3 linked regions of the Homo sapiens genome follow. The protein of the gene in region 3 interacts with the protein of the main gene of each other region in a pairwise test. Each region holds a gene or a part of one and is shown on either strand. Other genes may lie near its edges. The genes, in order: PNISR, FMO2 and TMEM132D.

Region 1 (3,657 bases), on a different chromosome or scaffold from region 3:
ACTGAGCTTTTGGATTTTACTTCCAATATAAAGCAATTTTAAAGGATAAAGAAATGAGATAAACGGTATTAAATCCAGAAAGTAAGACAGCCTCCAAGACCTGGTTTCTTAACATATAAATAGCATGGAAAAGATGGGAGGGAAGGTACTTTATGTTAATAACTATTAATTTAGGAGATGGTATGGGGGGGAATCATCACACTAGCCCAACTTTTCTGTAAGCTAGTCTGAAAACATTCCTAATAAAAGGTTTAAAAGTCTTACAAGTCTAATATCTTTGTACTTTATTCCAACACTGATACACAACCCTGTTCAAGAACCAGTGACTCACATAACCAGGGCATGGTTTCTTCTTTATTTTTGTATCCCAAGGCTTAGTTCATAGCAGGCATTTAATAAATGTTTACTAAATGAATCCTTCTAGATTGATCCTTTCCTGTATGCTAAAAACAAGATAAAAGCAAGCCTTTGTATTGCAGGATCACAAAAAGTAGGCAAGTTGGATAACAAAAAAAATAGAGATATTAACTCTAATAGGACAATTGGCGATTACAATTCAGGCTTTTAAAGGTTTCCAACTCCAGTCTTCGCAGCATTCCCAGAATGCCATACAGGTATAGTTCTATCTGCGGCAGATACTAATCCCTCAAATGAAGAACACTGTGAGTTATGGGAGGTGTATTTCTTTGTCACCTTGATTTACTTATGAGTCAAATGTACCTGTCTTCAAGTTACACTAATGTAATCAATTACAATGACATTATTAGAATATGGCAAAATAGGCACTACATAGCACAAATGAGGCCAACAACTGGTTTGGGTATCAGTTCCAAGTTAAATATATTTTTTTCTAACCTCTGTTCAGTGTTTCCTTCTTCCTCCCCTTTTTGTCCTGTCCAGTTTCCCAAGTACGCCTTTAGACTCCTTTAAGGCTAAATAGGTTATCAGAGCCCTTGAAAAGTAACTTCGCTTACAACTTTAATTAAGAGTTAACAAATAAATAGGAAACACCAAGAAGACACACCAACTGCTATTTAAACTGACCTCAGAGGTTCACCTTCTGTTTAAAACTTAGGTTGATTCAGACTACAGCTTCGAAGCATAGCAGCAAGATTATGTATGCCCTAGGGGGAAAAAAAGTAGATGTCTGCTTATAGATTATCATGATTCACATAAAAATAAATTCTAGAGATGCAACATAAGTGTGATCATCTCCAAGTTAGTCACTTTTCCTTGCATTAACTTTATAATGGGGAATTATTTTATCATAATAAAATCAAGGAAAAGAGATACACCAGAAATGAAGAGGCAAAGCTTTTTAACATCTTTTTTTCTTTCCAAATCTTTTATTTACTTGAACAATTCCTTCATAATAAAAAACAATGTCAAACAATTTAGAGATTGAGAAAAAAGGAACAACAAACATTTGAAATGAAGATCTCATCCACCTATTATTAACTTAGATGATACAAGGTAATAAAATGTATTAATTTAAATTTTCCTATAGAATTCTATGTTTAGAAATTAACATTAGCAAGGAGAGAACAGTTTGTTCCTGAAATGGTTTAGTTTCCTTTTTATTCAATCAACAGCTTTTTACAGTTGAAAGAAAGACAAATTTATTCATCCTTTTATCTTCAATAAGGTACAAGAAAGCATCTTGCACATAGCAGACACTAAATAAATAATCAGTGTCTAGCTATTACTTTCTGTTTAAAGGCTAATGATGAGGAAGCTGTTAACTTCTACTTATGAGAACCAAAAAGCTTGCTGTGCTTTCCAACGCTTTAACAGCTTATCAGAGTTCAATGCATAATTTTTCTGTCTTAAGTTGTAAACTCATATAATACAGACATTATCAACAGCTCTATAAAGTGCCTACTGAAACTGAAAATGTGCACTTACTAAAACCATTTAAATGATGAAAATGATGTATAATGACTACCTACCATCATTCCCAATCCATAAATTTACTTTTCCAGAAATTACTCTAAATAAAGGTTATTTTTCTTACTCATGTTTAATGGTTGTCATGGACAACTTTTTTAGTTCCCCTTTTAAGTTTTCTGGTCACCACTTGTCACCTAGACTTCAGAGCACAGGCTCTGGTTCAGGATGCCTACCTACATCCGTTCGTTAGTGGTGTGAACATAAGTAAATTATGCTCTAACCCTTGGTTTTCCAATCTGTAAAACAGAAGACCTAAATGTCTATACCCCAAAGGATTATTGTGAGGATTAAATAAGAAACACATAAAAACTAAGCATCAGAAGTTTCAATTCGTGGTGATTAATATCAATACTAGAGCTTTCCCACCATCACTTTTGGTAGCACTCTTCAAGTTAACAACTATTAGGGGGTTTTAAAAAAAAGGTGATCGGCCGAGCGCGGTAGCTCACGTGTGTAATCCCAGCACTTTGGGAGGCCAAGGCAGGTGGATTACCTGAGGTCAGGCATTCAGGACCAGCCTGACCAACATGGTGAAACCCCCGTCTCTACTAAAAAATACAAAAATTAGCCGGGCGTGGCGGCGGGCTCCTGTAATCCCAGCTACTTGGGAGGCTGAGACAGGAGAATTGCTTGAATCTGGGAGGCGGAGGTTGCAGTGAGCCGAGATTGTGCCATTGCACTCTAGCCTGGGCGACAAGAGCGAAACACCATCTCAAAAAAAAAAAAAAAAAAAAAGTGATCAAGCCAACCCACTTCTGCTCAACTCCATTTTCTTTTCCAGAAGCAATCTAAAACTTACAGAGGTTTCACTTTATCTTTGAAAGAATTCTTTAGTCTAAATTTGTCTTCCTGTTTCATGGGTTGAAACTTTTATTGTTATTATTATTATTATATTTTTTTTGAGAGGCAGTCTCGCTCTGTCGCCCAGGCTGGAGTGCAGTGGTGCAGTCTGGGCTCACTGCAACCTCTGCCTCCTGGGTTCAAGCGATTCTCCTGCCTCAGCCTCCTGAGTAGCTGGGATTACAGCTGCTCGCCACCAAGCCTGGCTAATTTTTGTATTTCAGTAGAGACGGGGTTTCACTATGCAGGTCAAGCTGGTCTCGAATTTCTGACCCAAATGATCTACCCACCTCAGCCTCCCAAAGTGCTGGGATTATAGGTGTGAACCACCGCACCCAGCTGAAGCTTTTATTAAAAAAAAAAAAAAAAGTTTTCCTATGAACAGAGGTTTTAATTTGCATATTTTCAAGGGTTTGATTTGTATCACCTATGATCATTTTTCTGTATGTTTAGAACAGCCACTTCTACTTTTGCTATATTTTTAGAAGCTTTTCTTCCCCAAAGTTTTGATGGAAGCTACTATTCAAGTAATATAATGTTTGGGACACTTAGGCTGAGAAAAATAGAAAAAAGATGTGAAATTGGGAAAAACAGAGCAGAATAAAAATACAGTAAAGAAGGTGATGGTAAGTTAAGGAAGTTAGAGGCTATTTATTAAAGCGCTTTAATTAAGTCTGGAGTTGAGAAACTTGATTTAGTTACAGAGGATGACTACTGGATGAGGGCACAGGTGGAACACCAAATGGTTAGTCTTTTTAAAAGACAATTTACTGGCTGGGCACGGTGGCTCACGCCTGTAATCCTAGCACTTTGGGAGGCTGAGGCAGGTGGATTACCTGAGGTCAGGAGTTCAGGACCAGCCTGGCT
Region 2 (3,657 bases), on a different chromosome or scaffold from region 3:
GCAATCCACCCACCTCAACACCCTAAAGTGCTGGGATTACAGGTATGAGCCACTGCGCCCAGCCCCAAGACCAAATAATTTTATGAGTAGTATAGAGTAAATAGGAGGGTTCTGGAGTCACACCGACTGGATTGATATCCTAATTCTGCCACCTTTAATGGCTTGTGACCATGAGCAAGTTACATAGGTCAGTTTCCTCATTTTCCTCTGTAAAATGGGGCTCATTAATAACTTAAACATGCAACAATTGTTTCAAGGCTTTAATGAGAGTGAATAAAGTACTTAGCAGAATCCCTGGCTCAAAATACATACTTAAGAATATTTATCTCTTTTCTGTTATTATTGGCCACTAGCGTTAAATTTACTAAGCCAGCCATAGTTTTGAATCAGTTAAACTAAGACTGTTATACTACAGCCAAAATGCTAGTTTTTAAAAGACCCAACAATTTGGCTTAAAAATGTGGTTGGCTTCTCTATCAGGTCAATTTTAAGGGAATTTTGAGTGATGAGAAGAACTGATTTGATGTCTGAGGCCCTACAGTAATCTTAGGGCCAGGGCAAAACTGGCCTTTGGGAGATTTTACTTGTGTAGTCTGTCAGCAAACAATAATGACCTCACTATTTTTCTGAAGATCAAGTGATAATCCCTTTTTTTTTTTTGAGACAGAATTTTGCTCTTGTTGCCCAGGCTGGAGTGCAATGTCATGATCTCGGCTCACTGCAACCTCCCCGTCTTGGGTTCAAGTGATTCTCCTGCCTCAGCCTCCTGAGTAGCTGGGATTACAGGTATGCGCCACCATGCCCAGCTAATTTTGTATTTTTAGTAGAGGTGGGGTTTCTCCATTTTGGTCAGGCTGGTCTCGAACTCCCGACCTCAGGTGATCCACCTGCCTCAGCCTCCCAAAGTGCTGGGATTACAGGCGTGAGCCACCGCGCCCAGCCAAGTGATAAACTTTTATTGTTGGGTTAATTGGTAAATAGCAGCTAAAAAAGACCCCCTTGTCTTCATATGTGCTTCCTTCTACATTTAGTTTGCTGAAGTAGGCATCTGTGTATTTAGACAAATCTGGGTAAAATTGGCCTAGTTTTCCTAGTTATGAAGAGATGATTAATGTTGATTTAATAGACAAGTATGTATCAAATGCTTGAACTGACCAGGGCCTGAGCTTGGATTTAGGGATAAGATGCTAACAGTACAAACATAGTTTATATCTTTATGGTGCTTATTGTTATATTGTATTAAAATGCACTTGAACTTTGGAGATGTGAAAGTGGAGACAGAGGGTTTATTGTCAATCAAGAGGAGGACAGAGGCACAGTTTTCAAAACAGATAAATTTAACTCACATATTTACTTAAGTACTACTACTGCCTGGATAATTAAGCATAAATATAGTCTGAATTTCCTTATGTGTAGAATTTGCTATAATTTGTTTAACATAAATTATCATATAATAAAGAATTCTTCTAATATAGAATTTTCAGAATGTCAGAAAACTCTAGCAAACCAAGTTAATTCAGATAGCACTTATTTAGAATTTATGATCTTTTGATCACGAGCTGAATTGAAGTTTATGTTTGACTTCATGACAATAAAAAGGTTGTAAACAGTAAGTTTAAAGAAGATTATAAGGGTAATATTTAATCTACTCAAGTGAGGAAATTTATAAAGCAGAAACAGATTTATTTATTATAAATGTGAATTACAAAAACTTACAAATTAAACTTTTTCTTCGTGAAACATCATTATATTGACCCTTACCAATCAATATTTTTGCTTTCATGGGTAGTTACCATAAGCAGTTAGAAAGAATAAAATTGCCTTTCTTTAAGAATATTCTGTGATTCTATCATTTCACTCTTTCGGATGGACCTTACATCTATCTGCTCCATTACTTGAATTGAATATGATTAAAACTCTTCTTACTTCCTTGTCCTACAATTAGAGGCAAAATTGCAATTCCCAAATGCCAGTCAGTGGACCAGTTGCATTAGAAGATGGGTCCAGATGTGTGGTGGCACAAGGCTGTAATCCCAGCTAAATCGCTTGAACCCGGGGGATGGAGGTTGCAGTGAGCTGAGATTGCGCTACTGCCCTCCAGCCTGGGCAACAGAGCGAGACTCCATCTCAAAAAAAAAAAAAAAAAGAAAAGAAAAAAGACGGGCTCAGATTTCTGTATTTTAGAAGCTCTCCCTAGCTGCTTCTGCACAATGAACTTTGTGAACCACATCTCTATTAGAGTATTGCTATCTTCTGTCATCTTTCATTAGGCTGGTGTCTCCCTTGATCACTGGCCTTGATCACTGATAGAACCCCCTAATTAAGTTCCCTGGCTCAGGTATTTACCACTTTTTTTCTGCTGCTTTCAAGCTAAAAGGTATACACTCATTGGCAATATGTTTGGAATGTTGGATCTTGGGGGAGCCAAATTTAAGAGAGAAAGTGATATTTCAGATTGAACTTAGAGGAAGAAAACCAAGATTGAGATATGTCTAGAGAGTATTACATGAAAATTAAAATAACTAAACATATACATCTGGAAAAGGAGGAGATCCAAATCCAAATATTAAAAGAAAACCCACAGGAAAAAAAATGTACATGGTAACTCCCACGTGAATACAAGGTATTAGGAACAATAAAGGAAACAGAGAAGGTTAGCGGCTGAAAGAAGATCATGTTTTCCTCTATCAATACTTCAGCAAGGTTATTAAGTGTGACAGCTCCGAAATTGTAAACCCTCGTTTTTTTTCTCCCGCCACCTATGTTCCCCTGAGCAAATTCTTTATCTGAAAACTGTTTCTTCTTAATATGTAAATAAAGATAATCATAATACATACTTCCTAGCAGTATTGCGAAGAAAAGAAGGTGATGCTTGCCAAGTGCTTCCCGTTGCTGGAAACAGAACGAAAAATATATGCTAATTACCTACCCGTCCCATGGTCCATATGTGCCACTAGGGGGTGCTGGAGAGTCTGGAAGAACTCTATTGTCTGGGTTGGGTATAGGACAAGGATTCTTAAATTTACTTATTTATTGTTAACTTGTCACCACCAAATATGTTAAGTAATCCCAGTAGGAGTTGTGTAAATACAAAAATTAATAAATAACCCATTTAAAAAATTGCTTCTGGATGGTAGAGTAGTGAAAAGGCAAAGTTTCCCAGGGAAGAGCATGGGGCTCCCAGCATCCTTCTTGGAAACTCCCAGTCACCTGGTAACCAAAACCCTCACATAGCCGTAGTGCAGGCAGCCTATGAAATTTTGCTTATTTTATGTTTCACTCTGCAGGGAGACTCTTTGGACTCTTTGACTTCGTTGAGTGGAGACAATAGTTTACATTCCTCTATTGGATATAGTTTTAAGAGAAATTTGAAATGTGATACTGTTACAAGTTCCACAGTTATATACTTAACCCTTAATATTCAATAAAGCCTAATTAATCAGGTTTTAATCCAGTTTTTCTAGTGAATAGGAAGTTATCTCTAATCTGAAATTTTAGATACTGGCAAAAGGATAGTTGGAGAAATATTTTACTGCAGAAAATACCTTCCTAGAATTCATCAAATCATATTGTTGGCAGACTGTTCAAACTAACTCTCATCTCTTTTGCTGACAATAAATCTGTGGGATGTGAGTATGCAAGGATTTTGGTATACTG
Region 3 (3,657 bases):
ACCCCAAAGTGCCTCATTTGTCTGGGGCTGATTGAAAAAGAATATTATCAAGTATTAAATATCTGTTTCCACATATTATCATTTCTACTGTATTGTCTTTCCAAATAGGAATTTTTGAATGAAACAAAGGGCAGATTTTAATACCAGGTTAATATGCTTGAGCCTTACACGTTTATATTTCATAAGCAGAAAATGATTAGTTATAGAACAAACCCACCCTCTTGTAGATATTTTTTAAAAACAAATAAACATAAAGTTTTGTTGCTTGTATTTCTATGCCCCTGGGACCTAGGAAGTATGGTATGACACACGGAGTTTCCCCAGCAGCCTTGTCCTATGGCCCCTAATTTTTCTGGGGAATGGCCTTAAATGTTTAAGGTCTAGCTTTGCTGGCAGCTTGATGTAGTTTGCAATGGTGCTAGCCTGCAGATGAGCTTTAATGCATTACTGTGAACTTTATGGGAGGGGGCAGGTGTATGGAGGGTGGGCTGAGAGGAAAAATGGGTGAGGAGATTGGAGTTGGGCAGAGGGCAAGGTGATTTTTAAATACAAAGTCAAGAGGGTTGCCACATTTAGGTTGCTTGTTACAGTCCTCACGTGCATCCTTCCCAGTTATGTTCCCTTGCACATGCTGGTAGGAAAGAAGCAGACGCTGAGAGACCTGCAACATTGCGAGCGGGGCTGCGGCAGTGTCGTGCTCCCTGTGCCTAGGGTGGCGCTGGGCACGTGCTCTGCCTGCTTCCAGCTGAGTGCAGCCAATGGCCTGGGCAGTGGGCTTCTTGGAGCGCCTTCCTGAAACTGCTTCCATATGTAGAGCTTCTGGCCTCTAATAATATGCTGAAACGGATGTTTAATACTTGGTAATATTCTTTTTCAATCAGCCCCAGACAGTTTAGGCACTTTGCATTGTCTGTGTGTGGTGTGTCTGTGTGTTTACTTCCAATTAAAATCCTGTTAAATATAGTTCATATTCGATTTCCAGCTGGGTGAGAACTTTCAAGGGATCAGAGAATCTTAGAGGAGAGGTGATATGAATACATTGCGACATGAACTGAACTGTCCCTGAGCTTATAAATAATATCTGCATCATGAAATTCCATTTGACACAATTTGATGACACTGGGGTGTTAATTGGGTCAGAGTGAAGCTTCTGGGTAGGACAGCACCACCCTTATTGAAGGAAGCTGTGGACCAAAAAGAGCTTCAAAGTACAGTGATAACTTCTTTAGGGGTCAGGAACTTTTTGGGAGAGGAAAGAATATCAGAAGGGAGCCAGTTAGTGGGGGAGAGAGAGAGTGTGGCTTTTTGCTTACATTCAAATTCTGTCAAATTGAAAAGACAAAGAATGAAGAGACCACTAAGTTTTGTTTTGTATGAATTAAAGAGTTAAATCAAAATGTGATTTTATTAAAAATATTTATGTGCATAGAAAGGTAGAATTCCAAGTTTGAGGATCTGTTTAACTTAGTTATATTCTAAGAGCCAAGAAAAAATGAGTAAACAACAAAAATTTCAAAAATATTTTATTATAGAAGCTATGCTACACAATATTTAGAATTTATCTATCAATTTTTCTGTTAATCCAGGTGTTATCCGTCTTTCCACCCATGTATTCACCCATCATCCCATCCACCCATCCATCCACCCGTTCATTCATCCGTCCATCCATCCATCATCTACCCATCCATCCACCAGTCCATCCACCAGTCCATCTACCCATCCACCCATCCATCCATCCATCCATCCATCCATCCATGCATCCATCCATTATCCACCCATCCATCTACCAGTCCATCCATCCATCCATCCCTCCATCCATCATCCATCCATCCATCCATCCATCCATCCATCCATCCATGCATGCATCCATCCATCCATCCATGCATCCATCCATCCATCCATCCATCCGTGCATCCATCCATCCATCCATCCTTCCATCTGTCTGTCTGCCCATCCATCCATTCATTCATCATTCCATCCTTCTATCCACCCATCCTTCCATCTATCCATCTATCATTTCATCCATCCATTCATCATTCCATCCATCTGCATATTCATTCAACAAATGTCAAAGGCCACATGCCTTCAGTGAACACAGAGCTCAGCAGGAACTATTTCTAAGTGTTGTGAGGACACAGGACAGGTACTAAAGCGTCCTTAGGTAGGGATGTTTAGTGCCAGTCATTCCTCTAGATGTCAAAGTGCCTCATACCATTACTCCGTTGCTTTAAGTTGTAAGCTCAGACCTGGGCAGTTTCGTATTCATCATTCCCCTCTTCCTTTGTTCCCTCTCCTTTCCTATTTCATAACAGTAACTGCCTTCTGAGCACCAACAATGCACCCCATACCGTGCTGGGCACAGGGAGTACCGTAGTGAGGAAAAGCACAGGTTGATATGGTTACTATTCCCAGAGAACTTGCCATTTGTAGGAGAGATAGGGGAACATGTGAATTACACAGAAAAACATAAAGTTAGCACTGTGGGTGTGCTCTGGAGGATGGGGCGAGTGTCTCTGGATGCAGATAATTTGGCAGTTGACTTAGAGTAACTGGGAAGACTCGCCTTGTCTGAAGGATGGGCTGGCGTTACCGGATGGACTGGGAGGATCCCAAGTGATCCACATAATCTCCCATCTTGACTTAGTCACGTCGCCTTTTAACATTTCCAAATAAAGTAACCAACATTCCCATATTTCAGGGATTTGGATGTGAATATCTTTTGGGGGAGTGCACTTCTGCCTTTCACAAGGTTGACATTCTACAACTATTTTCTGCCTCCTCTCCTAAATTTTAAGTTCTTCTAGGGGACAAAAAAATGGGTATTTTTTCTATCTCTGATTTCTCTCCAGTATTTTTAGCTTTGTGCTTTGGACATTGCAGGGGCTCAATACAATTTTTAACTGTGCTTCCAAGAGTGTGAAATATTGCTGGAAATCATTTACCTGACAGTGCAGTGGTTTGATGCTGCCTTTTCCAGTAATTCAGAGCGCCGCAGGAAATACTTTGGTCAATAATACCAGCTAATGTTTTGAGTAATTGTTGTATGGCAGGCACTGTGCGGAGTGACTTATGAGGATAATTTTTGTGAATTTGCAGATAAACTCAATGGGGTAGATATGTACTGGACCAGAAGTTGAAGTTCAGAGATGTTAAGTAACTTCTCCAAGTCATAGCAACATAAAAGACAGGCAGAGTCTGAATTCTGATGCCAGAACCCATACCCCTGGCCATTCTGCTGACTTCTGATAATTATATGGAATAACTAAAAACCAGGCGGTTTGTCAGGCAGAATTGTTACATGGTGCCAGGCTTGCCAGGGGCTGAGTGCAGAGAGGTCTTGAGACCATTTTAGTTTTTAGCTCAGAGCCTGGTATACAGATGACCCTTGATATTTGTTGAGCAAATGAATAAATGAACATCATGTTATTTAGTTTTCTCAGCATTATTTTTTCCAGCAGCAATCAGAAATAACACCTGAAAGGGATTAAAATGGGGATTTACTTCCAAGACCACCAGGGAGGTAGAAGAGATTCTCTGATGGTGTGGAATGGTTTGGTTATCTCCTAGGTCAGCTTCTTTTTTGTTTTTTTTATTTTTATTTTCCTCCTCCCCCACCTCCCTAGGTCAAGCTTCTTAAAGAACTTGCAGACATGCCCA

What was found.
Region 1: the proteins of TMEM132D (region 3) and PNISR interact in a two-hybrid assay, tested with the Homo sapiens proteins (one large-scale study listed by BioGRID).
Region 2: the proteins of TMEM132D (region 3) and FMO2 interact in a two-hybrid assay, tested with the Homo sapiens proteins (one large-scale study listed by BioGRID).

What each region holds. Positions count from the first base shown.
Region 1 is NC_000006.12:99,415,305-99,418,961, forward strand, and holds part of PNISR (arginine/serine-rich protein PNISR), read right to left. Parts: intron 1,125-3,657; 5' UTR 1,045-1,124; intron 444-1,044; exon of another isoform or gene 332-443; intron 1-331.
Region 2 is NC_000001.11:171,188,149-171,191,805, reverse strand, and holds part of FMO2 (flavin-containing monooxygenase 2), read right to left. Parts: intron 1-3,657. UniProt on the Homo sapiens protein: Catalyzes the oxidative metabolism of numerous xenobiotics, including mainly therapeutic drugs and insecticides that contain a soft nucleophile, most commonly nitrogen and sulfur and participates to their bioactivation.
Region 3 is NC_000012.12:129,897,506-129,901,162, reverse strand, and holds part of TMEM132D (transmembrane protein 132D precursor), read left to right. Parts: intron 1-3,657. UniProt on the Homo sapiens protein: Regulate neuronals morphology via inhibition of the WAVE regulatory complex (WCR), a complex that controls F-actin cytoskeletal dynamics.